Linked DNA regions of Homo sapiens. The protein of the gene in region 2 purifies or fractionates together with the protein of the main gene of each other region. This does not show direct contact. Each region holds a gene or a part of one and is shown on either strand. Other genes may lie near its edges.

Evidence for each region.
Region 1: the proteins of TEX261 (region 2) and CD226 purify together in Homo sapiens (co-immunoprecipitation; one large-scale study listed by IntAct). This does not show direct contact.

What each region holds. Positions count from the first base shown.
Region 1 is NC_000018.10:69,856,690-69,861,800, forward strand, and holds part of CD226 (CD226 antigen isoform a precursor), read right to left. Parts: 3' UTR 1-5,111.
Region 2 is NC_000002.12:70,991,563-70,997,129, reverse strand, and holds the start of TEX261 (protein TEX261), read left to right. Parts: upstream 1-2,256; 5' UTR 2,257-2,372; coding exon 2,373-2,442; intron 2,443-3,354; coding exon 3,355-3,434; intron 3,435-5,146; coding exon 5,147-5,300; intron 5,301-5,567.

The sequences.
Region 1 (5,111 bases), on a different chromosome or scaffold from region 2:
CACATTGTAAATAATTCATGGCTCAAAGAAGAAATATCAAAAGAAATTTTAAAATATTTTGGACTAAATGAAAATAAAAATAGAGCTTACCAAAACTTGTGGAACAAAGTGAAATTTATAGCATTAAGTGCCACTATTGGAAAAGAAAACAACATATAAAATCAATAATCTAGGCTTCCACCTTAAGAAACTAAGGAGGCCGGGCGCGGTGGCTCACTCCTGTAATCCCAGCACGTTGGGAGGCCGAGGCGGGCGGATCACGAGGTCAGGAGATCGAGACCACCCTGGCTAACACGGTGAAACCCCGTCTCTACTAAAAATACAAAAAAATTAGCTGGGCATGGTGGTGGGCGCCTGAAGTCCCAGCTACTCGGGAGGCTGAGGCAGGAGAATGGCGTGAACCTGGAAGACGCAGCTTGCGGTGAGCCGAGGTCGCACCACTGCACTCCAGCCTGGGCGACAGAGCGAGACTCCGTCTCAAAAAAAGATAGCTATTCATTAGACATTGAAAGAATTATAAAATAGACATACAAAATTACAGAAAGGTTAGAAGAGTAATCTCTATCTCTAGAAGCTACTGAGCCATTACATTTCTTTGTACATTTTTTATGTGAGCTAAAATCAAAATTTGCTTCTGAGGACCATTATACGATAAAAATAAAGTGTGGGATAAATCAGCTCAACTGAAGCCACATCCAAAGCTGTTACTCAGAAAACTTAGTATCACTGAGAGTATATTGGAGAGCTCAAAGTCTTACTCAGGCAGCTGATCAAAGAATAATGGTCTTAGTCACTGTAAGTACTTTTGGATACCTGGCATAAAGGATGTAATGAATACATGATTGAATAAGGATATATCTTAAGAATGCATTTTCATAAAAACATAAAATCAGTTGAGATTATGTAAATTTTGAAGAATGAAGAAAGTAAGTTATCATAGCTTCTTCTCAAGTTTTATTTTTATGTCTTACAAATATGGCTGGGCAATACAACACAAGGCTTCCTTTTCAGGAATTTGGAGAACTTATGCTTGGTATTTTAAACTCATGAGAACTTAGTCTAGAAAGGGCCTCCACTTATTTGACCACAGGTAGAAGATTGGCTCTGCTTTCTTCCTGTAATAATATTGGTTTCTATAGGTCAAATGATACACAGTATAATTTTGTGGCATTTTGATTACAAGTTTTCCATTTAAAAATGGACAAAAATCAACTTCTTACTTGAAATTTTGGAGGTAGTATGTTACCAAAAAAAATGGTAGTTCTTGTAAAGGTATACCTGTGTCTAGACATAAGTTGCAGGTTTAAAAATCAATAGATTTGAATAAAGTTAAAGTCTAGAAAAATATGCAATGTATACATGCGGATGATTAGTAAACCCTAATATCCAAATGCAATGTCAATAGTGTTACTAAAAATGAACTATCGGCCATTATTGCAAAACTGCCAACTGAGAATATTGATATAGATACTAACTGTATTTATTTGTTTTTTCAGCAATTTATTTTAAAACAATCTTGGATATATTTAGTTACATCTGGAATAAACTCAGGTATTACACAGGGCCTTGAAACATTTATAAAAGGGTATATTAAACCCTGCCTTTAAGAAAACTATCATCTGGTCGAGGAGGGACATTTGTCAGTTGAAGTTCTTCAACGAGCCTGGAGGGAATGTCGCAGTGTGTTCTGTTTGGAAAGTAAGTTGTACCCTGACTGCCACTATGGAAGCTGAAGGGGGAGATACAAGCTGCTGCCTTCCAGATATATTTAAGAGACACTGATTTTGGAATAAGTCAGTGAATAAAAATAGGGGCTCAGGACTCATCCGAACGTGGGGTACTGATGCTGCTCAGATTCACTGCCCTGTGTTCTAGGGAGGGTATCGAAGCCCAAATTGTTGCTTTCTGCAGGAAACGAGTGTTTCCTGCCTCGTTTCCCACTGGAGTTGCCACATGTTGTGTTTTGCAAGCCTACTCCATCGGGTGTCCTGGGAATTCTATGAGCCACCCCTATGTTCAAATACTTAACTTTTTTTTTTTTTTTTTTTTTTTTTTTTTGAGACGGAGTCTCGCTCTGTTGCCCAGGGTGGAGTGCAGTGGTGCGATCTTGGCTCACTGCAACCTCTGCCTCCCGGGTTCAAGCGATTCTTCTGCCTCAGCCTCCCAAGTAGCTGGGACTACAGGTGCGTGCCACCAGGCCTGGCTAATTTTTCTATTTTTACTAAGACAGGGTTTCACCATATTGGCCAAGTTGGTCTCAAACTCCTGACCTCGTATTTTTTTTTTTCTTCAACAGTCAGTATCTGTTTTCGTGCTTACAACCAATACCCCCAACTTTTACAGACACAAAAGCAAACATAATAGACTTATTATTCCTTGTTATGGGCACTCGTTAAACATTTACAACACGGAAACACATGTCCTTTTGTTCTGGAAAATGTTTTAGAGTGGATTCTAGGTTTCATGTATTCCTCCCCCTTTTTCTGGATGAAGGGAGACACCAGGATGGCAGTTGTGTGCCTCTCCTTCTAGCCCCAAGTCAAGCTTCTAATGGAGTCTTTCTAAGGAAGTTGACGTTGGTAGAATTCCTGCTGCATCACAGGGGAGTTTCAGGTCAATTTATGGTAAATACAGAAAAAGTCAGTCCCCAGAATGACAATTATTAGCTCTAGGTGGAAAAAAAGTTATGTAGGAGGGAAAGCAAAATCATTTTTACCATGTAGTTTAACTAAGAGTACTGGCAAGGTCATAAGAAATAAATGCCAAATATTGATATAATCATATTTTAATACAAATATTTCTGAAAGAGACATGAGAAGAGTATTTTATGTGGTGAGTTTGGGGAGAGAAAGACATCTAAATGAATAATGAATGTCTAAAATTGAAAAAAAAAGTATTAGTGTCATAAGCATGCTATTCAGAAAAGTGAACATAAATAAAATAATGAGTTAGAAGTAGTAAAATTTGTTGTCTCAAGGTAACAAAAATGAGGAAGGGCAAGGGACTACTATGTTTCGGGAAAAACAAAAACAAACAAACAAAAAACCTGTAAAGCCCTTTGACCCTTTGCACTACATGCACTTATAAAATACAAAGAACAAGGCCAGGAGTGGTCGCTCATGCCTGTAATCCCAGCAATTTAGGAGGCTGAGGCAGGTGGATCACCTGAGGTCCAGAGTTCAAGACAAGTCTGACCAACGTGGAGAAACCCCGTCTCCACTAAAAATACAAAATTAGCCAGGCATGTTGGCATATGCCTGTAATCCCAGCTATTCAGGAGGCTGAGGCAGGAGAATCACTTGAATCCGGGAGGCAGAGGTTGTGGTGAGCCGAGATTGTGCCATTGCACTCCAGCCCGGGCAACAAAAGTGAAACTCCGTCTCAAAAAAATAATAATAAAATAAAATACAAAGAACATTGCATTGAGATAAAAATTACAATGTATCATTGATTTGAATTTTTTCTGCATGTAATTCATCAGTTAATTTTATTCTGTAGAAATTTTTCCCTGCTATTTCTCCATGGCAAATGAAAGTAGTGATCGTGAAACATTGTGTTTTATTCATTCAAAACAACAGAATACAAGACAAAGGAAAATATTTCTATACCCTACAAGAACCAAAAATCCAAAAGTACACACTAACACTAGAAAAAGTGTTCTGAACAGGTTGACCATATAACTTATTCTAACAAGGATAATACGAAATAAACCAGAATTATCCCAGACATTTATTACTCATACTTCCAAATGGACCTTTTCTTACATCTTACAAGATAGTTAGTGCTCTGAATCTGGAAAAATATGTGTAAACCGACCTTGAGGATTTATAAAATTTCCTTAGAAAGCATTGCAGTTAATTCTAGAAGCTATTTTTCTACCTATTGAATCACTAGAAATAGAGAAGCTTTTAAAAAAATTAACTTGTTTTTAGTTTTCAGATACATGTTTTAAGAGCCCAGAGTCTTGGCTGGAAGAACTCTAATGAACAGATCAGTGAAAAAATATACTTATACAGAAGTCTGAAGGTGGAGATCAGTACTTTCTAGATGTTACATTTTAATAGTAGCTAAACTAATGATGACATGTTTATATTGTCTTATATTTTTTAAAGATATTTTCTTATCACTGTTGTGAAAAAGAAACTTTGTACTCACAATTTAGCGTCTCCACTTACACTTTATAAGCATCTTTATAATATCGTCAATCTTGCTGAAATTTCATATAAGCAGTACAAAATACAGTACATCATTATAAATCAAGGAGAAGCATTTTGGTCACAGTGATCTCTAATTACAATGTGGACTCTCTCAATTTAGAAAACTACTGTTATACAGCTGTAATTTTTACTTAATGCCATTCTATACAAACCAATATAACTTGGATGTTCACAATCCACGAATGCCTACTAAAAGTATTTTTACTTACTTTGTCTTTTAAATTGATAACCCATGTATTTTAAGTTTATATATATAGTATTTTAGTAATACACTGAATTACTTAAAACATAAATTGGAGTTTTTACTAAAAATTATATCTTCACCTACCTGCCTCCCATTTTAAGCATGATTACAAGTAAATGAAATTTCTATTTTATTTTCTCAACATATTATACCTAAAGTTCTTTAAATAAAGTTTGAAGGTATCTCTTATAATAATATAGTCAATGCATAGTCATCATAGTTCAATAAGATGTGTTCTTTCCCTGACAAAACTGTGTACTCCATTAACAAGTCTTCCTATCTTATTATAACAAAGTAATTTCCTTTCATTGGTTACTTTAACATAAATATTAATGGCATTCAAAGGAAGCATAGATTCTTAATGTATTATCCATCGATATAAATTATATGTGTATATATATATGTATATATATATATATATATGTAAAACTTAAGAAGCATTTTGCTTCCAAAGCAGCAACTTGTAAAAAGTATCTGTATTTAAAATAGAATTTACTGGAATTCTGATCGTTTATTCTGTGGATCTGTTTTTCATCTGCTTTCTTAGTAACAATCAGAATCATAGGTGCAAAAGAGTAGAGGGGGAGAAACATACACTAGGGAGAGTCCCAAAACTATCACGAATTAAGAATGATGTTAAAAAGATGACA
Region 2 (5,567 bases):
TGTTTTATTTTTGTTTTTGTTTTTGTTTTGAGACGGAGTCTCCCTCTGTCCCCCAGGCTGGAGTGCAGTGACGCGATCTCGGCTCACTGCAAGCTCCGCCTCCCGGGTTCACGCCATTCTCCTGCCTCAGCCTCCTGAGTAGCTGGGACTACAGGCGCCCGCCACCATGCCCGGCTAATTTTTTTTTTTGTATTTTTTAGTGGAGACAGAGTTTCACCGTGTTAGCCAGGATGGTCTCAATCTCCTGACCTCGTGATCCTCCCGCCTCGGCCTCCCAAAGTGCTGGGATTACAGGCGTGAGCCACCGCGCCCGGCAACTGCAATTTTTTTTTTTTTTGAGACAAGTTTTCATTCTGTCATCCCAGCTGGAATGCAGTGGCCCAATCATAGCTCACTGCAGCCGCCATCTCCTGGACTCAAGTAATCCTCCTGCCTCAGCCCAGAGTAACTGCGACTACAGGTACGCACCACCATGCCTGGCCATTTTAAAATTTTTCTTTGCCCAGGCTGGTCTTGAACTCCTGGCCTCAAGTGATCCTCCTACCTCAGCCTCCCAAAGTACTGGGATTACAGGCATGAGCCACTGTGCCCAGCCTGCTTTGTAATCTTTTTTTTTTTTTTTTTCTTGAGACGGAGTCTCGCTCTGTCGCCCAGGCTGGAGTGCAGTGGCGCAATCTCGGCTCACTGCAACTTCTGCCTCCCGGGTTCACGCTCTTCTCCTGCCTCAGTTTCTTGAGTAGCTGGGACTACAGGCGCCCGCCACCAAGCCCGGCTAATTTTTTGTATTTTTAGTAGAGACTGGGTTTCACCGTGTTAGCCAGGATGGGCTTTGTAATCTTATGTATTTTGTTGGGGGGAGGGGGAAGCTATGCATAACATAAAATTGACCGTTTTAACCATTTTACAATTCTGTAACACTGTATACAATTCAGTGACATTAAGCACATTCACACTGTTGTGATGCCATCAGCACCATCCATCTTCCCAAACTGAAACCCTGTATCCATTAAAAAGTAACTCCCCATTCTTTGTCCCCCAGACCCTGGCAAGCACCATTTAACTTTCTGCCCATGATTTTGACTACTCTGGGTACCTCATATGAGGGGAATCATACAATGTGTGTCCTTCCCTATTTGGCTTATTTCACTTAGCATCATGCCTTCAAGGTTCATTGATGTTGTAGCATGTGTCAGAATTTCACTTCATTTTAAGGCTAGATAATATTCCATTGTATGTTTATAGCACTTTATGTCTATCTTTTCGTCAACCGATGGACATTTGGGTTGCTTCCCTCTTCTGACCATTGTGAATAATGCTATGAATATTGGTATACAAATGTCTCTGCTTTCTCAGTTCTTTTGGGTATATACCCAGAAGTAGAATTGCTAAATCATACGGTAATTGTTTTTTTTAGGAATACGTATTTTTATGCAGGAAAAATATGATTCTGAAATAAGCCTACTAGACTCTTGTTCTACATACTTTATTTTGCATGCCTGTCTCCGCCACTAGATGGGAGACTTGTTGACAAGGACTAACCGGTTCCAGGTGCCCCTCAGGAACCCTCCCAGAGGTGTAGTAAATGCATCCAGCGCCTAGCGGACGCCCTGCGTGCCCGGCAAGGGGTGAGGTGCAGGCGATACAAAGGTGCAGAATGTACCCCAAAAGAACAGCCTAGAGGGGAATTAGGCCGGAGGATGACCGATTAAAATCACCCCAACTCCTGATTGTGCCGCTTCCTAGGTGCATGACCCAGGGCAACTTCCTTTGGCCCCGGCTTCCCCGTCTATAAAATGATTTACATTATCTGCTCAAATTTCCGACAAGAACACACCTCGCCTTTATCACAGAGCGTGGCACATATTAGGAATTCAATAATTTTGTCCCTATCACCTGCGATAGCAAGAGACAGACTTGTCCGCAACCTGCCGGGAGGCAGGTTCTGGGGAGGTTGCTGGGGCGCGGTCGGGCGGCCCTGTCCGGCCCTGGACCACCTCCAGGCTGGTACGGGAGTGCACAGGGAGGGACTGGAGGCTGCACTCCGAGCCCCAGTATGGGCGCTTGGTCGTCTCCGCCCCTGGGCACCGTCCCGCCTCCCTCTGGCTGCAGCGGTCTGCATTCATTCCCCTCAGTGGAGCGGGGGATCCTGGCGGGGCAGCGGCGGTTGGCCCTCCTCTCCGGCGGGCGGCGCTAGCGCGAGCCTGGCCCCGGGCAGCGCTAGGGCCGGGCTCCTCTCGGCGGCGGCGCACCGTCGTCCTGTCGTCCGCGGGGCGGGGACGCGGCGGCGGCGGCGGCGGTGGCGGCTGTGTGTCGCCGGAGCCGAAGCGCGCAGGCCCGTCCCGGTGGCCGGGGAGCGGGCGGGTGGGGGCGCCATGTGGTTCATGTACCTGCTGAGCTGGCTGTCGCTCTTCATCCAGGTGGCCTTCATCACGCTGGCTGTCGGTGAGACTGCACGACCCCGGCCCGCGCGGGCTCCCGCCCCGGCATCGGTGCTCGTTGGGGGTCGCATCGCGGGGGTTTCGGAGCCACTCGGGGGACCACTGCCCGGCGCTCCCGGCCTTCGCCGCCCCAACCCCTTCCCGCCTGATCCTGCCCCTCCTGTCGAGCCTGGCAGCCCGGCCTGACCGTGGCTCCTTCCAGGTGTCACAGAGTCCGCTCCGGCACTGCCCGAGAAAGGGTGACTCGAGTGCCGCCCCCGCGTCTGCGGACCGCTAACCGCTGCGGCTCCCACTCTTCGCGGGCCTGCCGCGCGGAACTTTTCCCCAACGCCTACCGCCGCCTTTGCGCCTCTGGCCCTTCATGCTCCCTGCTCTCTCCACCTTTGACACTTCTCCTCTGGCTGGTTCCCATTCGGCCTCAGTTGAGATGTCATCTTTTCCGGGAAGTCCACAGGGGTTGATGGTCCAGCAGTGCCCTGTCCTTTCCCTAAAGTAGCATTTCTCACACTAAACTCGTCTGTCTCTCCCTACTGTTCCCCTTCCCTTTCCCAAGCTGGGTCAGGGAAGGACCCTTGTCTGTCTTTTTCAGCTGTATTCTCAGCCCAGGGACCTGGCTCATGCCAAGTGCCCAGCAGGTGTTTATTGAATACGTGAAATTCCGTTTTCTGAGCCAGAGGTTATCATTGTACTGTGGCATCAAATGCAGACTTTCGTTGATTTTTATGAGATTTGTCCTTAGTTGCCCTAAGAAAGTTTTACTTCTCCAGACTTGGAAGGGCAACACATGGGATGTTTGGTTTGTTCTTGACCTTCTGGGGTCCATGAAGGGTGGATGGGGACTGGGCTGCAGAGAGAGGGGTGACCAGGATGGTGGGAGTGACCCTGGCTGATAGTCTCCCTGCCTCCCACCCTGCAGCGGCTGGACTCTATTACCTGGCAGAACTGATAGAAGAATACACAGTGGCCACCAGCAGGATCATAAAATACATGATCTGGGTAAGTGGCATCTTTCTCCAGGAGTCCTCCTCACTCTTTTGCCCTGCCTCAAAAGCAGGAAGTGGGGAGAGTTTGGCATGGATGATGAGGCCTGTGTCTCTGCTGTTTCCTGAGCATACACTCTTACCTCCTTGCCCTGAACGCTGTCTTTTGGGTCTGCACTCCTGGGCCCAGATCTTCCCTGGCCGCCTTCCCCAAGTGGCATTGTTTCACTGCAGGCCTTGTGCTCTAGTCCTTAAGGTGACAGCGAAGTGTACTTCTCTGTTGACAAGACCGTAGATTTGACTTTGCTTAGCTCTCTCCCGCTGTCTTTAGCCCTTTGCTCTGCTCACAGCATTTAAAACTTAGAGGAGCCATAAGACAGTTTTGCATATATGTTCATTGCCATCTTTCTAATCGGATCAAGTGATTTGTCCTAAGATCGGCACAGCTTCGCTGCCCTCGCCCTTCCCTGGTCTCATGGGAGGCTTCTCTTACTGAAGACACAGTCCTTGCCACTGATATCAAAGCCATAGGGGTGACTGCTGGTGGACAGACTTCCTTCAGCTGCAGGAAAGGCTGGGGGTAGGGGTGCCATTGGAGAGAAAGCGTCCACAGCCCCTCAAGTCGCCTGGTGTCAGCAGCCATGTGCACTCTGGGCATGGCTGAGGTTGGGAGTTCACAGTGGAGGCAAGACTATAGCCCTCAGCTCTGGTCCAGAGGCCCAGCTTGTGGGTGTTGGCACAGTAATTAGCCCTTCATTCAGCCAACTGTCATTTGCTAAGCACTGACAACTGTAGGTACTTATCAGTAGTGTTTTTCAAACTGTAGGCATGATTCATTATTTGGCTGTATAGTAGGTCACAATCAGCATTTTTTAAAAAAAGGAACATAAATAGAATTGAAATTTGAGCTTTGAATCATATATATGTATATATGTGTTGGGGTCACAGTGTAAAATGTTTTTCTTTTTCTTTTTTTTTTTTTGAGATGGAGTTTCGCTCTTATTACCCAGGCTGGAGTGCAGTGGCACAATCTCAGCTCACCGCAACCTCTGCCTCCTGGGTTCAAGCGATTCTCCTGCCTCAGCCTCCCGAGTAGCTGGGATTATAGGCATGTGCCACCATGCCTGGCTAATTTTGTATTTTTAGTAGAGATGGGGTTTCTCCATGTTGGTCAGGCTGGTCACAAACTCCCAACCTCAGGTGATCTGCCTGCCTTGGCCTCCCAAAGTGTTGGGATTCCAGGCGTGAGCCACCTCGCCTGGCAGATGTTTTTCTTACTGTGGGTTGCTGTCAAAAAGTTTGAGAAATGGGCTGGGTGCGGTGGCTCACACCTGTAATCCCAGCACTTTGGGAGGCCATCAGAAGTTTGAGACCAGCCTGGCCAACATGGCAAAACCCTGTCTCTACTAAAGACACAAAAATTAGCTGGGCGTGGTTGTGCATGCCTGTAGTCCCAACTACTCAGGAGGCTGAGGCAAGAGAATTGCTTGAATCCAGGAGATCGCGCCACTGCACTCCAGCCTGGATGACAGAGTGAGACTCCGTCTCAAAAAAAAAAAAAAAAATGTTGCCTTTTGGGAGCAGAGAACCTAGCTGGGGAGGCCAGACCTGTGAAATGAGGAGATTGAAGCATGAACCTAGTGCTGCCCAGAGCGGGCTGGGGGTTGGTGAGTCCAGGAACGTTGCCTGGAAGAAGCGCCCTGCACTGTCTGCCTCTGGTTGTTTCAGTTCTCCACCGCTGTACTGATTGGCCTCTACGTCTTTGAGCGCTTCCCCACCAGCATGATTGGAGTGGGCCTATTCACCAACCTCGTCTACTTTGGCCTCCTCCAGACCTTCCCCTTCATCATGCTGACCTCGCCTAACTTCATCCTGTCGTGTGGTGAGAGGGGACAGAGTTGGGGAGGCAGCTGATGTGGTTGGGTGTGCCCATCTCCATCCTGGGCACTAAAGGGGATACAGAAAAAGGAAGCCAGCTGTTGAAGTCCTCCAGGAAGCCAGGCTAGTTGGGAAGATGCGGTTCTTACTGCTGAGGACTCTAGAGCCCACCTTGGCTCTAGTGAATAGAATTTGTTGGGGCTGGGGACTCAGACAGGGAGGGCTTTCCCAGAGAGGTAAGTTTGAAGGAGAGTTTGGGAAAGAAGAGGTT